Linked DNA regions of Homo sapiens: region 1 is linked to region 2. The links come from fine-mapping of genetic effects on gene expression. Tissue or cell type: whole blood. Region 2 holds a variant in brackets; the other region holds the start of a gene. All regions are shown on one strand. Distances are from middle to middle.

Evidence for each region. PIP is the estimated chance that this variant, and not a neighbour inherited with it, causes the effect.
Region 1: it holds the start of ISL2, and the variant in region 2 is fine-mapped to the expression of ISL2 in whole blood (TOPMed, PIP 0.91).

What each region holds. Positions count from the first base shown.
Region 1 is chr15:76,333,389-76,341,494 of GRCh38, forward strand. ISL2 (ISL LIM homeobox 2) reads left to right here and starts at 3,385. Exons shown (of 6, transcript NM_145805.3): 1 at 3,385-3,553; 2 at 4,390-4,579; 3 at 4,864-5,126; 4 at 6,888-7,171; 5 at 7,746-7,913. The coding sequence starts at 3,496. RefSeq lists enhancers at 3,120-3,414, 3,226-3,725, 3,419-3,468, 3,894-4,705, 6,253-6,322 and 2 more.
Region 2 is chr15:76,728,271-76,736,376 of GRCh38, forward strand. SCAPER (S-phase cyclin A associated protein in the ER) reads right to left here. Exons shown (of 32, transcript NM_020843.4): 16 at 4,959-5,114; 17 at 325-467. Among named protein-coding and RNA genes, the nearest start is that of MIR3713, 150 kb to the left of the region's middle. The variant T/C (reference allele first, on the strand shown) is at 4,688.

The sequences.
Region 1 (8,106 bases), 390 kb before region 2:
GTGGAGAGTGTGTGGCCCCTCCATACCTGAGAAGGGAGCAGCCAGGAGGCAGAGAACCAGGGTAGGGCCACATCAATGGTGCCTGTGGCCGTGCCCAGCAGGTGCAGGTGTTTTCTTCTCCCATGTCAGTGCTGGTCTCTCAGGGGTGGCTGTGACCAGAAGTCACACATGGAGTGATTTTGAAATGGATCCCTGGTTTTACAGCTCCAGAGATGTGAAATGGGTGAATGATGGAGCTACACTCATGTGGCTCTTCAATGGCACAGTGAAAAAAGCAAGCAAGATGGAGCCAGATAGACCTGGGTTCAATGCCAGCAATGATTTAACCTGTGACCTGAGGCAGTAACTTCCCCTCTCTGAGCCTCAGTTTCCTCGAGGATTGGAGGGGCCCAATACTACTCACCACATGGCATTACTTTTAAGACCTAATAGGCTAACAACAAGGACTTTGCACATGGTGGCCCTGAACAAATATTTGTTTTGACCTGGCTTCCTAGCATCCCAGGAGGGGTGACCCTCTCCAATCCCCACCTCCCTAGTGAAGTTTCAAAGGACAGGTTTTTCTGGACGGGAAGGAAGAGTTTCTCTGGGCAGGAGACGGTTAAAAGCTGGGACTACGATTCCAGCCTGGGGCTGCCCCCTCCTGGCCAGCTGTCTGAACCCCTGAATTATAGATGTGCTTGCTCCTGGCCTGGCGAGCAAGAGCTAGTAGGTGCTGGGAGCCAGGCCTAGTCCAGGGTCACCTAAGGGTAGGGCCATTGGGCCAGACGCACCTCCTCACTCCACATGCAGACACACACACCGAGTCCCCTCCCAGTTCTGACTGTGCACCCACATTCACAGATATAACCTGTACACAAAGTCTATGCACAGACCACACATCTCCAAACCCCATCTACACAGCAGACACACACACAGCAAGCACACATCGAAATCACAAAGAAATCATCAGATGACACATACTGAGACATACTTAGACCTCCCCTCCCCATCCAGACACACGCAGGCAGGGTGGGCAGAGGCTCCCAACATAAAGATACAGCCACAGTCATAACTGTCATAATTAACACATATGGAGCACTTACTCTGTGCTAGGTATTGCTCTAAGCCCTTTCCAGAGAACAGTTTATTTAATTATTATGTAATAGAGATAGCTACAATTATTATACCCCCATTTTACAGATGAGGAAACTGAGGGAAGGAGAATTAAAATAAGATGCCTGAGGTCACACAGGTGTCCTGGCACAGCCTCAGGCACAGATACCCACCCCCTCGCTCTTGTCCCCCATTTACATAAACACATTCATTCAAACGCAGCATCCCCCAACCCCTGACCTGCCCGCACACACTCAGGGTGAGCGCTCTTTGGGGGACTGTTGACTAAAGACGCAAGAAATGGCCTATTGGCCAACGGGTGGTAAACTGTAACAAGAGCCGGTCCGGTGGCCCGGCGCGGTGGCTCACGCCTGTAATCCCAGCACTGTGGGAAGCCGAGGTGGGCGGATCACGAGGTCAGGAGTTCGAGACCAGCCTGACAAACATGGTGAAACCCGGTTTCTACTAAAAATACAAAAATTAGCGGGGCGTGGTGGCGCTCGCCTGCAATCTCAGCTACTCAGGAGGCTGAGGCAGGAGAATCGCTTGAACCCGGGAGGCGGAGGTTGCAGTGAGCCGAGATCGCACCATTACACTCCAGCCTGGGCGGCACAGCAAGAGTCTATCTCAAAAAAAAAAAAAAAAAAAAAAAAAAAAAAGCCGGACCGGTGAGAAGACTAGACCTCCTAAAGGTGGAGGCGGAGCTCAAAAGCCGGACGCTACTGGACGAGGCTTAAAGCGCTCGCCCCAGCGCGGGGCCGGTGAGGAACGTTCACCGTGGACCATGGTCGAATAATGTTAGCGTGCACTCGGGGCCTCGCCCTAGCCTTCTGCAAAGCCTCGGCCTGCGCCCTCGGCTGCATCCGTTTCGACGCCAACCAACCTCATGCTCTTAGTAGAACGGCAGTAGCGACCGCGCCCTCAGGCCCACAAGCCCGAAGGTCTGGGCAGGGTCTGGAATGGCGGTGGAGACACTTTATCCGCAGGCGTTTCACCTCGCGCCCCACCCAGGCGCACACCAAGTTCTTGGTACTCCTTTTAATGGGAAAACAAGAACAGACACCATGGTTGGATAAATGTTATTTATAATTCATGGGCCGGTCTTTGAACCCTTTCAAACAAAACCCACAGCGATTTCTTTGAAAGAATGCCTGGACTGTGCTCAGAGCTCTCAGATTTTCTCAGGACCAACGAGCCGCCGCCTCGCAGATACCACTGTAAATTACCCAGCGCCTTACGTTCGTTTCTGATTATTTGCATTGCAGTGGGTTTGTTAATGAAGGACAAGAGTTTAGAAAAATCTTTTATTTTGGAAGTTGGACACGCAATCGACCCCAGCAGTGTTCCTAAAAGGAGCTATGCCATTTGGATGGGGGAAAAATGAGGGGGCGGGGAAGTCCATGTTACATTTAAAACAACAACAGCAACAAATTAAAAGCAAAACAAAACAACAAAAAAAAGGAAGTGGAGCAGGAGGAGGAGGTGGTGGTGGAGGAGAGGGAGGAGGGGCAGCAGCAGCGGCAGCAGCAGCAAGGATGGAGTCAGGACCCGTCCCAGTCCCGGGTGAGCGCTTTTGGATCTGGGTTCTGGCTCAACCCACGTAATGCCCCAATCTAAAGTTTTCTACGTGTGTGTGGATAGGAAAGTCTAAATAGAGTTTATCAGAACCCAGGTGGTCATTCTCTACACTCTCTCTAGCTTGGACCCGAAGAACAAAGGCACATGAGAGGAGAAAGGTGACCAGCTGGACGATGACGGTCACGTCCAAACGGATCCCCCTTGTCCTCGGCTCTCTCGTCCTGAGAGTGGGTTTAATTTTTTTTTTTTTAATTTATATAAGAAGGGAGCTCTTAAAGGAGAGCCATCTCCACCCTCAGGTATCCATCACCCAGCTCCAGCGCGCCTGGGAAAACCGCCCCGAAAGTCCAAGAGGAAGCTCAGAGTTGTAACGGCCGCGGAGCCAGCTCGGCGGTGACGCAAGGTCCAGTCCAGATTGCCAGGCCCGGGGCATGAGAGAGGATCCTTGTAGGTTTCGGAGGTGGGGGGGCTGCACTCCATTGTTCACTCCGGGCCAATCAGGGTTGGCCCACTTCCTCCCAGCCAATCTCCCTTCACCCCCAGCCTCCAACCCAACCCACCCCGCCCATCAGCCCCTGGATCCCCATCACCTCCCCCGCATCCCCGGCAGTTCTGGGGAAGCTTCGTGACGCCACAGGTCCCGCCCCCAGCTCCGGCCCGGGGCTAGTGCGTGTTGACGTCATGCTGCGTGCGGGCCGGTGCGGAATCGCTCCTTCAACTCCGCGGGGCAGTAGGAGTTAGTTAGCAAAGAGCCGAGGCCGGGCGCGCGACCCTCGTCCTTCTGCCCCTGGCCGCACACTTTGCGCACATCTCTTTTTCTGCATGGTGGATATTATTTTTCATTATCCTTTTCTGGGTGCTATGGGTGATCATTCCAAGAGTAAGTATTTCTGTGTGTGTGTGGGGTGGGGTGTGTGTGTATGCTTAATATGCAAAATTTCTAATGCAGAAAAATGTTTAGTGGATTCTACAAGTGGCTTCTATTTGTCAGAATAGTTTAGGAGAGGAAAAACGAATGCATGTCTCCTGCAGGACTGCTTATCTTTGGGAATCCTGTTGTTTTATTTTATAAGTAAACACTATTTCTCAAGCCGGCTAGGATGACTTCGGGCTGCGAAATCTGCTTCTGTTTTGCGCAAAGGCAATTAGGTTTGATTTAGGGATGTGGGTTTTTTTTTTTTTGGTTGTTGTTTGTTTGCCTTTCGGTTTTTCAAAGCTAGGAAGCTTTCTTTCGCTTGCTCTGGGATATTTAAACTAAGAAATGTCTGAGAGGATGAGCGGGGACTGCCGAAAGACGATGTGTCTGTGTTGGGATAGGAGGCAGCCGCTGTGAGTGGGAGTGTGTGAGCGGAAATGCCAGGACAGCACCGTTAGGTGTTGATATCCAGGCGTCCGCAGTGCCTGTGTATTTACTCTCTTCTTAGTTTCGTGTTTGCGTTTAGTTTCAAGACACGTCGACAAAACGACTGTCATTAATGAATGTAATAACGAAATATTTGGGGTGGGGGACAGAAGAAACCTTCAGCAATCCACAAGATACTGGTTTTTCGTTTCCAATGCCCTGGACCTTTAGAGAGCTCATCATCTTTCCTTATGGTCGCAAGTCTTGAAAGAAAGAGCAAGAGAGCGAGCGGGTTGGGTTGGGGCTGGAGTAGCCGAGGCCGGCCTGGGTCCGGGCAGTCAGGCCTGACGCGGCCCCGCGCCCTTCCCCGGCAGAGAAGCCCGGGACGGCCATGTGCGTGGGCTGCGGGAGTCAGATCCACGACCAGTTTATCCTGCGGGTGTCGCCCGACCTCGAGTGGCACGCGGCCTGCCTCAAGTGTGCCGAGTGCAGCCAGTACCTGGACGAGACGTGCACGTGCTTCGTGAGAGACGGGAAGACCTACTGCAAGCGGGACTATGTCAGGTGAGGCCGGCGGGAACGCGGGCTGGGCCACCGCGCGCAGGGGCCGGGGCCGGGACTGGGGATGGCGGCCTGCCCGCGCGCCCCGGCCCTGCCCAGGGAGAAGGCCATCCGCATCCCGCACGGGTGCCGCAGCGCTCCCCCGGGCCCGGGAATGCCCGCAGGCGGGTCACCGCAGTCTCCTGGTGGCCACAAAGTGTCCTGGGCGCGCGCCGGAGCCGTAGCAGCCAGGGAGATGAGGGCGGCCGCAGGCCCAGCGCTGACACCGCCGCACCTTGGGCCCGCAGGCTGTTCGGCATCAAGTGCGCCAAGTGCCAGGTGGGCTTCAGCAGCAGCGACCTGGTGATGAGGGCGCGGGACAGCGTGTACCACATCGAGTGCTTCCGCTGCTCCGTGTGCAGCCGCCAGCTGCTGCCTGGGGACGAGTTCTCGCTGCGGGAGCACGAGCTGCTCTGCCGCGCCGACCACGGCCTCCTGCTCGAGCGCGCCGCGGCCGGCAGCCCGCGCAGCCCCGGCCCGCTTCCCGGCGCCCGCGGCCTGCATCTGCCCGGTAAGCGCGCCGGGGCCTGTGCCGGGGTGAGCGGGGTGTATGTGCGTGCGTGTGTGTAGGGGTACGCTTGTGTCCCTAACGAGAAGTTGTCAGTTGTGTGTGGTTCCGTCTGCCGGGATAGTGTTTTTCTGTATCAGTGCGGAACTGTGTGCTGGGAACAAGGCTGTGTGTATTCTCGTGTGCTCGGGAGAAACTGCGTGTGTATGAGTGTGTGAGCACGGAGAATTGTGCAGAATCGTGTTCTCCATGACCAGGAACATGCAGGGCACAGTGCTAGGAGCAGAAGAGTGGATGACAACAGGGAATCTTAAGTGGTGTCCGTCTTGGGGCTTGTATTAGGAATTTCTTGGAGGAATATGTGTTATTGTCAGAGGGTAAGGTTTGCCCAGGGGTATGTGTGTAAGTAACACAGCTCCAAACTGGGAGCTGGGCAGGAGCTTGGTCAGCCAGGAGCCAAGAACCCAACAAAGAGGGGTTTTTGCCATCTTGTTTTGAGGCCCAGTTTGATGAACAATTTAGCCAGGTTCTTCTGGGGGAGGGGGAGTATCAATGCATAGTGGACTGTCACTGGAATATTCTGGGTCCTAATCAGCAGCTGCCCAGAGATGGGGTCTGAGTGTATAATGGGCAGGTACGGCTGAACAGAAACAGAGGTGCCTCCACCCCAGGCAAGGCAGTTTCCCCCAGGTAGCCATAGGCCTGCAGCACAGATCCGTAGACCAGGCTGGGCCTCTGGGTGCTGTGTGGCCTTGCCCCGCTCCTCCCCTCTCTGGATCTTCACTTCCTCCCTATAGAAAGAGGAAACTGGGCTGGATGGGCTATTTGTAAATATTTGTCCAGACCTAGAAATTCGTAGAGGGGAACATAAACCGAAATGGTGCAGTACAGATCCACGGTATATATGGGTCGGGATCAAATGGAGATGTGAAATGGGAGCAAGCGGGTATTCAGTGCACCCCCATCTGGGATCTCGGAGAGGCTCCCCTTTGTTTGTTTCGGGCTTCAGGGTGCAGGCTCTGGAATCAGTCACTGTTTCCCCGGGATGGAGAGAACCTGGGGCCAAGCGAGGAGAGTGCCAGCGGCTGCTCAGCACCTTGGTCGGTGGGAGGCCACTGGGCTGGGGAACCTGGAGCCTTGAGGAAGGAGACAGGGGCCGAAGCCCAAGGGCGGGCAGGAAGGAACTGTTGCAAGCCCTGGAGGCCCGTCCATAACCGTGGATGAGTCTTCTACACATGTGGCCTGGCCCTGTCCAAATGGGCTCTGAAGGAGGGGAAGGGCCCTCGTAGGCCCCCGGCATATTCGCACCTCCCACCCAGTCCCCTGGGCAGCGCCTCGCCCTGGGTCCACGTCGGTCCCTTTCCCTCTCCAGAGTCCTGGGCAAGCCTCTTTCCTCTTCCTCTGAAACTCCGACTTCTTCCGGAGGGCTTCGCTCGTTCCGAGGGTCCTGCGACTGGAGGAGGCACATCCCTGAGCAGCCACTCCCTCCCCGCAGCGGCCTGTCGCCGAGCTCCCGCGCCCTGCTTGAGCTCGGGAGAGATCGCTGCGGGGCAGTCCGGCCCGGGAGCGAGAGAAAGAACGAAAATGCACAGCTCTCTCCGAGTAAGGCGAACAGATGGAGAGGAAGACGAACAATTAAACGAAACAAACAGAATAAAACAGAAACGAAATCGGGCCCCGGGGGGCTGGGCCACCCGGAGGTTGGGCTCGGGGCGGGTGGGTGGCGGCCCCTCGCTAACCTCTGGCCTCACCCTGTCCTGGCAGACGCTGGGTCGGGCCGGCAGCCCGCGTTGCGCCCGCACGTGCACAAGCAGACGGAGAAGACGACCCGCGTGCGGACTGTGCTGAACGAGAAGCAGCTGCACACTCTGCGGACCTGCTACGCCGCCAACCCGCGGCCCGACGCTCTCATGAAGGAGCAGCTGGTGGAGATGACCGGCCTGAGCCCGCGGGTCATCCGCGTCTGGTTCCAGAACAAGCGCTGCAAGGACAAGAAGAAATCCATTCTCATGAAGCAGCTGCAGCAGCAGCAGCACAGCGACAAGACGGTGAGCAGCCGCTGGGCCGGAGGCTCGAGTCGGGTGGGGGCTGCGCTTCCGCCGCGGTATCTGCGTGCCCTTTTCTGGGCGAGCCCTGGGAGATCCAGGGAGAACTGGGCGCTCCAGATGGTGTATGTCTGTACCTTCACAGCAAGGCTTCCCTTGGATTTGAGGCTTCCTATTTTGTCTGGGATCGGGGTTTCTCCTTGTCCCAGTGGCAGCCCCGCGTTGCGGGTTCCGGGCGCTGCGCGGAGCCCAAGGCTGCATGGCAGTGTGCAGCGCCCGCCAGTCGGGCTGGTGGGTTGTGCACTCCGTCGGCAGCTGCAGAAAGGTGGGAGTGCAGGTCTTGCCTTTCCTCACCGGGCGGTTGGCTTCCAGCACCGAGGCTGACCTATCGTGGCAAGTTTGCGGCCCCCGCAGATCCCCAGTGGAGAAAGAGGGCTCTTCCGATGCGATCGAGTGTGCGCCTCCCCGCAAAGCAATGCAGACCCTAAATCACTCAAGGCCTGGAGCTCCAGTCTCAAAGGTGGCAGAAAAGGCCAGACCTAACTCGAGCACCTACTGCCTTCTGCTTGCCCCGCAGAGCCTTCAGGGACTGACTGGGACGCCCCTGGTGGCGGGCAGTCCCATCCGCCATGAGAACGCCGTGCAGGGCAGCGCAGTGGAGGTGCAGACGTACCAGCCGCCGTGGAAGGCGCTCAGCGAGTTTGCCCTCCAGAGCGACCTGGACCAACCCGCCTTCCAACAGCTGGTGAGGCCCTGCCCTACCCGCCCCGACCTCGGGACTCTGCGGGTTGGGGATTTAGCCACTTAGCCTGGCAGAGAGGGGAGGGGGTGGCCTTGGGCTGAGGGGCTGGGTACAGCCCTAGGCGGTGGGGGAGGGGGAACAGTGGCGGGCTCTGAAACCTCACCTCGGCCCATTACGCGCCCTAAACCAGGTCTCC
Region 2 (8,106 bases):
GTCTGACAGAACATTTCCAAACTTGGTCCTCTAACCTTTTACTAATTATGCCCTCAGTATCTTCCCCAAAAGTCTCTTTTGCTGAAGCCATCCAGAATCAAATTATATATTTTTTGATTTGAGTGTGGTGGTACACACCTGTAGTCCAAGCTACTCAGGAGGGTGAGGTGGGAGGATCACTTGAGTCAGAGAGTTCAAGATCAACCTGGGGAACATCGCAAAACCTCATCTCAAAAAAACTCTACATGACAGTAAATGGCTTTAAGACCTCAACTTGAATATTCACTCAGTGCAAAATGTTCATCAAGATAGCAAATGAGATACCTAGCTCTTTCCCGGGCTGCATCCTCACGGGCTTTTTCCTTTTCTTGCCTCTGTTGTTCAATTCGGGCTTCTTGTTCTTTCCTCTTCATTAACAATTCTTCTACACGGGCCTGCCGCTCTGCCTCTAGAGCTCTCTTGCGTTCCTAATGTTAGAAATATTTGTTTCCAATATTAGAATTATGTGTAAAATAAAAATGATTCAAAGTAATATACCTTTCACCAAACTTACATGTTCAAGCCAAGTAGAAACATGGGCTTGCCACTAGGTACTCTGCTTCTTAAAGTTTAAACAAAAATCAAATAGCAATGATATCTGGTTTCTGAAAGTCATTTACCAGTGTTACACATAATTCAGTAAAGACTTGCTTTTTTATACAAACACTGTGTTATACTTGTTTTGTGGGAACTTGTGATGGTTAATCAGCTGCCAGCGAGGCTAGAATATAAAGCAGGCAGAAAAATATGAAAAGAGAGACTGGCCTAGCCTACCAGCCTACATCCTTCAGCCGTGCTGGATGCTTCCTGCCCTCAAACATCAGACTCCAAGTTCTTCAGTTTTGGAACTCGGACTGGCTCTCCTTACTCCTCAGCTTGTAGACACTCTGTTGTGGGACCTTGTGATTGTGTGAGTTAATACTTAATAAACTCATATATATATATGTTTTATATATATATACACACACACACATATATATACACATACACACACACACACACACACACACACACACATATACATATATATCCTATTAGTTCTGTACCTCTAGAGAACTCTGACTAATACAGAACTTAATATATGTTTTCTGATTAATCACTTCTAAAGCCTTGTGTTAATATATGGTTATAGAAACACCTGAATATGATGAAAAAACCATAGTTAATAGATTTTATTTCTGAACTAAGCTTTCATGATGGAATTAAGTAAAGACAGTTTGTGAGAAGGAGAAAGAGGTAATACAATAGAGCACAGTGGGTGTAAGAGTGGATATCGGGTCAGATTCCCTGGTTTTGTTTCCTGACCCCATTATTCACTAGCACAGTGGCTCTGGGCTACTTAGTTACATTCTCTGTGCCTTACTTTTCTAGAAGATAAATAATAATATGTATTTCTTAGGATATTATAAAGCACAGATGAGCTAATATATGAAAAGCACTTACCATAGGGCCTGGCATATATAAAATTCTAAATAATTATCATCATCATCATCATCAAGCCAGAAGATAAATCATGAAAACTGGGTAACTTCAACATGAAATATTTGTCACTAACATGTTCCTCATCTTATTGATATGTTTCTCTGAATCCATACCCATTCCCCAGATAGCACTCACAACCTCTCGGTAGCCTCTCCTCTATAATTAATGGAATACATTGATCTAGGCTCTAGTACCTACTACTTACATAACCTTGGGCAAAGTACTTCACCTTAAAGAGCCTCAGTTGATTGTGAGATGTAAATTATTAATTACAGGTAAGTTCTCAGCATAGAGTTTAGCCATAGTAAGGGCTCAGTAAAAGATAGCAGAAAAAAAATAACAAAGCAATTTCTGTTCAGGGAACACAAAAGAGAGATTTGAACATTTCTAATAGTTAACTGAGCGCACAATAGTAACTTCATCTCCACAACAAGCTCTATCTGCCCCAGGGAAAGAAAGCCTTTTAAAAATAGCCAAAAGGATCTCTATTTCTTTCTTTTTTTTTTGAGGGGGTAGGTGGTATAAGAAGAGGGTAAACTGGGAATTGGAGGGAATGCCCTTATTTGAGGAGGACATAACAGGCACACTGCAGACTGTTGGAGTCATGCAATTAGATTTTAAAATATATCCTTTACTGTCTGAGCATACTATTCATGAAATAGTTGTAGCTATTTCTCATGACTAATCAAGAATAATATGTGGAAACTTGGTTAGCCAAAAAAAATCAAAAACTCTTAAGAGTAAAAACAATCAAATCTGGCACAGAAAATTTTCTCCATTAAAAAAAAAGTGAATAAAAAAATTCCTCTTATAGTCCAATTTTTCTGAAGTTTAAAAATTCCATATTATATCTGAAAACACATGTTTCACAACAAAATACAAAGAGCTTAGGCATTAAATATAAATAATTAAAGCAGAATTTTTCATTTCATATTTTATTAATATAAGACCAAAGGCTTGAGGAATGTAATTTTTTAAATCCTAAACTGATCTTATAAAATATGTATTATGTAAAAATAATTACTGCAGGTATGTGCAATGTAGCCAAGTGTACACTTGTAAACATAATGTCAACTTGCTGACTGTTTTAATGGATATCAGACCAACTCCAACATTGTATGAAAAGAGATAACTGGACGTAAAAAGTTACTCAACCTATTAATTTCCATTTTTAATAACTTGAAAAGAGAACTGGTAGCCATACAGCTAATGAGTAAAATTCAGCTACCATTTCCCAATCTGAAATTTAAATTCCCGAAAGACAGGAAACTTTGTACCTCATAAAGCACCCTGCAAAGGGTAGGGATTTCTAAATATCTGTTTAATAAATGAAGCATGACTTTATAAAATAATATACACTATGAATCTATATAGCCACAAGGAAAGAATTAAAACTTACAGCAAAGGAATTAGAAATATAACTAATTCTTAAGCCTACAGAAGAACCTCTCAGACCCCTTCATATCTCAGCCAGGGAGGTGTTTAAGGCAGCCTAAGAAAGGATTCTGTAGCTCCTCTTTATGCCTACAATTCAAATGATTAGGACAAAAGGACAAAGCAGGATAAGTAAAAAAGAAAAAATTGAGCTTATAATTAATCAATAAAGAATATACATACCAATAACAGCAAACTGAGAATATATGATGGCAGCACTTGGTATTTTACTTACAAGAAATGAGAATCACAATTGCCTTTAATAGTCCATGAGAATGCTTCAAGAGTAAAAATAAAATGGATGGAGGGTCTCTGAAATTCTGTATTAGGTTAGGATCTTACCATTATTGTATTTACAGAATACTTGGCACTAGTGCCTGTACAGCAAGTAATGATTACACATTTTTAAAATTTTAATGTTATACATGTTATCTACCAGTGGATTTTTCTGACTATCTATCTCAGTATATCTCAAGCATATGTAGACAGGTTTAAAATCTTTCACTGAAATTAAATCCATAGGAAACTTCAGCACTTTTAAAAACAAAAATAATTCTAAAGAGCCAAAACAATTCTTAAAGTGTTGGTTGGTGGAGGAAATTCCCTACTAGTTTAGTAAACTGTTTTCCTTTAAGTTTTAATGAATGTTAAAAATTGTGAAGTGAGAGTCATCATTTTTAAACGAAAGATAACTGTTATATTTCAAATCTGCAAAATGCAGAGTAAGGAACCAAAGATGTCTATTTAAAAATATACACTACTACTCATGTACTTCACCTAGTTGAAGCTGATGATTCTATTGCTATGATTACAGTCTGCTGATGAAAGAACTGATGACCGTAACTGAAAGAGAACACACTATCTTTTAGAAAATAGACTTTATGTTTCTAGAGTGCCATATTGAACCATGCACCTTTGGGAACAAACACTAGGTTACTCCATTTGGGGTCCTCAGCAACTAGCTTTAAATCTAAAATATGTGTGGGCGGCAAGCCACCCAGGTGCCAAGGCAAGAGACCGAGGGCATGAGCTGTTCCAGTATAATAAAATATACAAAATAAGAATAGTTATACTAGATATAGATCACAGATATGATTATATATGAATATCATTAATCATTAGTTTGTAGCAATTACTCTTTATTCCAATATTATAATAATCCTTGCTCTACAATCATAACCTAGGAAAAACCAGGCCATACAGAGATAGGAGCTGAGGGGACATAGTGAGAAGTGACCAGAAGACAAGAGTGAGAGCCTTCTGTTATGCCCAGACAGGGCCACCAGAGGGCTGCTTGGTCTAGTGGTAACGCCAGCGTCTGGGAAGATGCTCATTGCCAAGCGGACCGTGGTCTAGCGGTAGCATCAGTGTCAAGGAAAAACACCCACTACTTAGCAGACCGGGAAAGGGACTCTCCCTTTCCCCCGGGGAGTTTAGAGAAGACTCTACTCCTCCACCTCTTGTGCCCGCAGTTATCCTGAGGCCTAACCGTCTCCCTGTGATGCTGTGCTTCAGTGGTCACGCTCCTAGTCCACTTTCATGTTCCATCCTGTACACTTGGCTCTGCCTTTTAGAAAGCAGTAGCAAATTAGTGAAAGTACTAAAAGTCTCTGATATGCAGAAATAATGGCGTAAGCTGTCTCTCTCTCTCCTCTCTCTCTCTGCCTCAGCTGCCAGGCAGGGAAGGGCCTCCTGTCCAGTGGACATGTGACCCACTTGACCTTACGTATCA[T/C]TGGAGATGGCTCACACGCCTTACCCTGCCCGTTTGTCTTGTATCCAATAAATATCAGCACAGCCTGGCATTCAGGGCCACTACCGGTCTCCACGTCTTGGTGGTAGTGGTCCCCCCAGGCCCAGCTGTCTTTTATTTCTTTGTCTTATGTCTTTATTTCTACAATCTCCCATCTCCGCACATGGGGAGAAAAACCCACCGACCCTGCGGGGCTGGACCCTACAAATATGACAGGTGCTCAAGCAATGTTTGCTGAATAAAAAAATCCTACCTGCACAGCTTCATCACGTGCTTGCTTTTCTTCCTGTCTTCTCTGACGCTCTTCCTGTAGCTCATTAAGCCTCTGTTCATATTCCTTCAATTTTGATAAAACATCATGACGTTTATTCTGGGCTTCAAGGGTATTTATAAAGGCAATTTCATTTACCTTTAAAAAAACAAAGAAGGTAAGGTTCAGATCAAGTTAATTCTAGGGCACATTACAAAAATAAGAAATCTAACAACAGTCAGGCTGGGCGTGGTGGTTCACGCCTGTGATCCTAGCACTTTGGGAGGCTGAGGAAGGCGGATCACCTGAAGTTGGGAGTTCGAGACCAGCCTAGCCAATATGGTGAAACCCCATCTCTACTAAAAAAAAAAAAGAAAAAATAGCCAGGCGTGGTGGCAGGTGCCTGTAATCCCAGCTACTCGGGAGGCAGAGGCAGGAGAATTGCTGGAACCCAGGAGCCAGAGGTTGCAGTGAGCCAAGATCGTGCCACTGCACTCCAGCCTGGGTGACAGAACAAGACTCCATATCAAAAAAGAAAGAAAGAAAGAAAGAAATCTAACAACAGTCTTTATATAATAACATGAACCAGTGGTAAGGCATGGAACAAAAAAAAAATGAAGGAATTATTGGTCTTTTCTTTCAATATTTACCTCAAAATGGATAATAATCCAGTGTGTATAAAAAATCCACAGGCCTTAGAAAGAAGTGATTTAGAGGCCTGCCACTGAAAACATTTTTAAGTGAAGAAACAATTTTAAATTCTTATACAGACCATCTTACAAAGTTCTACTTAATAACAGTGTAATTTGCAACTATACAAATTACACAAACATTGAAATAGGTATGCTCACGTTATTCTAATGAGTTTGAAAGGACAAAATGTAAAATAAACAACAAATTACTTTTCTTCAACATATAATGAATGAGTGACAATTAGATACAAGGTACTGAACTATACATTGCATCCTTAACTTCACATATATTGATCCTTAATAGTCAAGTTTTGCTAGAAAGTACAGATATTATGAGTAAAGGATAGCTAATGATAAAGCTCAAAAATCAGGTAGGATCAACCCTCTCATTCTTGAAAGCCAGAGCGGAGGGTATGCTACAGTTAAAATGGTAGAGTGAAGTAGGGAAGTGAACACTAGAGACAACTGTCTTTGACAGCCACAGACTACAGGAATCCATGCTGGATGGAACAAAACCTACGTTAAGATATTTTATAAATCTCAGAAAAGTTTGAATACAGATCCAACTAAGCTTTCCCAATCTCCATGCCATGATACCACTTTCATAAGCACTTTAATAAGTAGATTAATCACAGAAACATCCTTCAAACTGTACTGAACGTACTCAAAATACAAGATAGGCCAGGTGTGGTGGCTACGCCTGTAATGCCAGCACTTTGGGAGGCTGAGGCGGGTGGATCACAAGGTCAGGAGTGCAAGCTAGCCTGGCCAAGATGGTGAAACCCCGTCTCTACTAAATATACAAAAATTAGCCGGATGTGGTGGCAGGCACCTAATCCCAGCTACTCAGGAGGCTGAGGCAGAGAACTGCTTGAACCCGGGAGGTAGGGGTTGTAGTGAACCAAGATCGCACCACTGCACTGCACTCCAGCCTGGGCGACAAAGTGAGATTCCATCTCTCTCTCTCTATATATATATATATGATAAACAAGTATGCTCAAGGAAACTTTATTCAGACTATATCATAAACATAATCAAAATGAAAGAAAAAGTAATGGGACCTAATACACTAAGCAAAATTTTTACAATAAAATAAAACTCACAAGGGAAAGAGTATGCAAAAGTCAGATTAAACAACTCAACCTTGGCAGGGTGCAGTGGCTCATGCCTGTAATCCCAGCACGTTAGGAGGGCCGGGCAGGAGGATTGCTTGAGCCCAGGAGTTCAAGATCAGCCTGAGCAATGTAAAATGACTATCTCTATTAAATATAAATATATACAGATAGATAGATATAGATATATATATTTAGCCAGGTGTGGTGGCATGCAACTATAGTCCTAATTACTTGGGAGGCTGAGGTGAGAGGATTGCTTGAACCCAGGAGTTAGAGGCTGCAGTGAGCCATGATCGCGCCACTAAACTCCAGTTTGGGCAACAGAGTGAGACCCTGTCTCATTTAAAAGAACAGCAACAATTTGGAAGAAAATAATAACCTGTGGTCAGGCACGGTGACTCACACCTATAATCCCAGTACTTTGGGAGGCCGAGACAGGCAGATTGCCTGAGCTCAGGAGTTTGAGACCAGCCTGGCCAACACAGTGAAACCTCATCTCTACTAAAATACAAAAAAAAAATTAGCTGGGCGTGGCAGCATGCCCCTGTAATCCCAGCTACTTTGGAGGCTGAGGCAGGAGAATCGCTTGAACATGGGAGATGGAGGTTGCAGTGAGCCAAGATTGTGCCACTGCACTCCAGCCTAGGCAACAGAGACTCCGTCTCAAAAAAAAAAAAAAAAGAAAGAAAAAAAGATAAGAAAAGAAAATAACCTAACAAACAGCAGAAAATTCATTAGACAAACTTGGTAGCACTGAAGAATTTGACAAAAACATGAATTTAAAGAAGCAAAGGAAAGATGATAAAACAACATACAGTAGTATGTCCTTATCCACAGGGAATACATTCCAAGACCCCTGGTGGATGCCTCAAATCACAGACAGTACCTATATAGTCAGCCCTCCATATCTGTGGGTTCTGCATCCATGGATTCAATCAACCATAGATAAAAAATGTTTTTTAATGGGTGATTGTGTTTGTACTGAACATGTACAGGCATACCTCAAAGATATTACAAGTTTGGTTCCAGCCCACCACAATAAACTGAGTATCGCAATAAAGGAAGTCACATGAATTATCAAATTTCCCAATGCATATAAGTTATTTTTACACAATACTATGGCCTATTAATTGTGCAACAGCATTATGTCTAAATAAACAATGTACGCACCTTAATTCTAAAACACTTTTTCTAAAAAATGCTAATGAACATTCGAGCCATTAGCAAGTTATAATCTTTTTTTCTGGTGGAGAGTCTTGCACTGATGTTGATGGCTGCTGACTGATCAGGGTGGTGGTTGCTGAAGGTTGAAGTGGCTGTGGCAATTTCTTAAAATAGGACAAC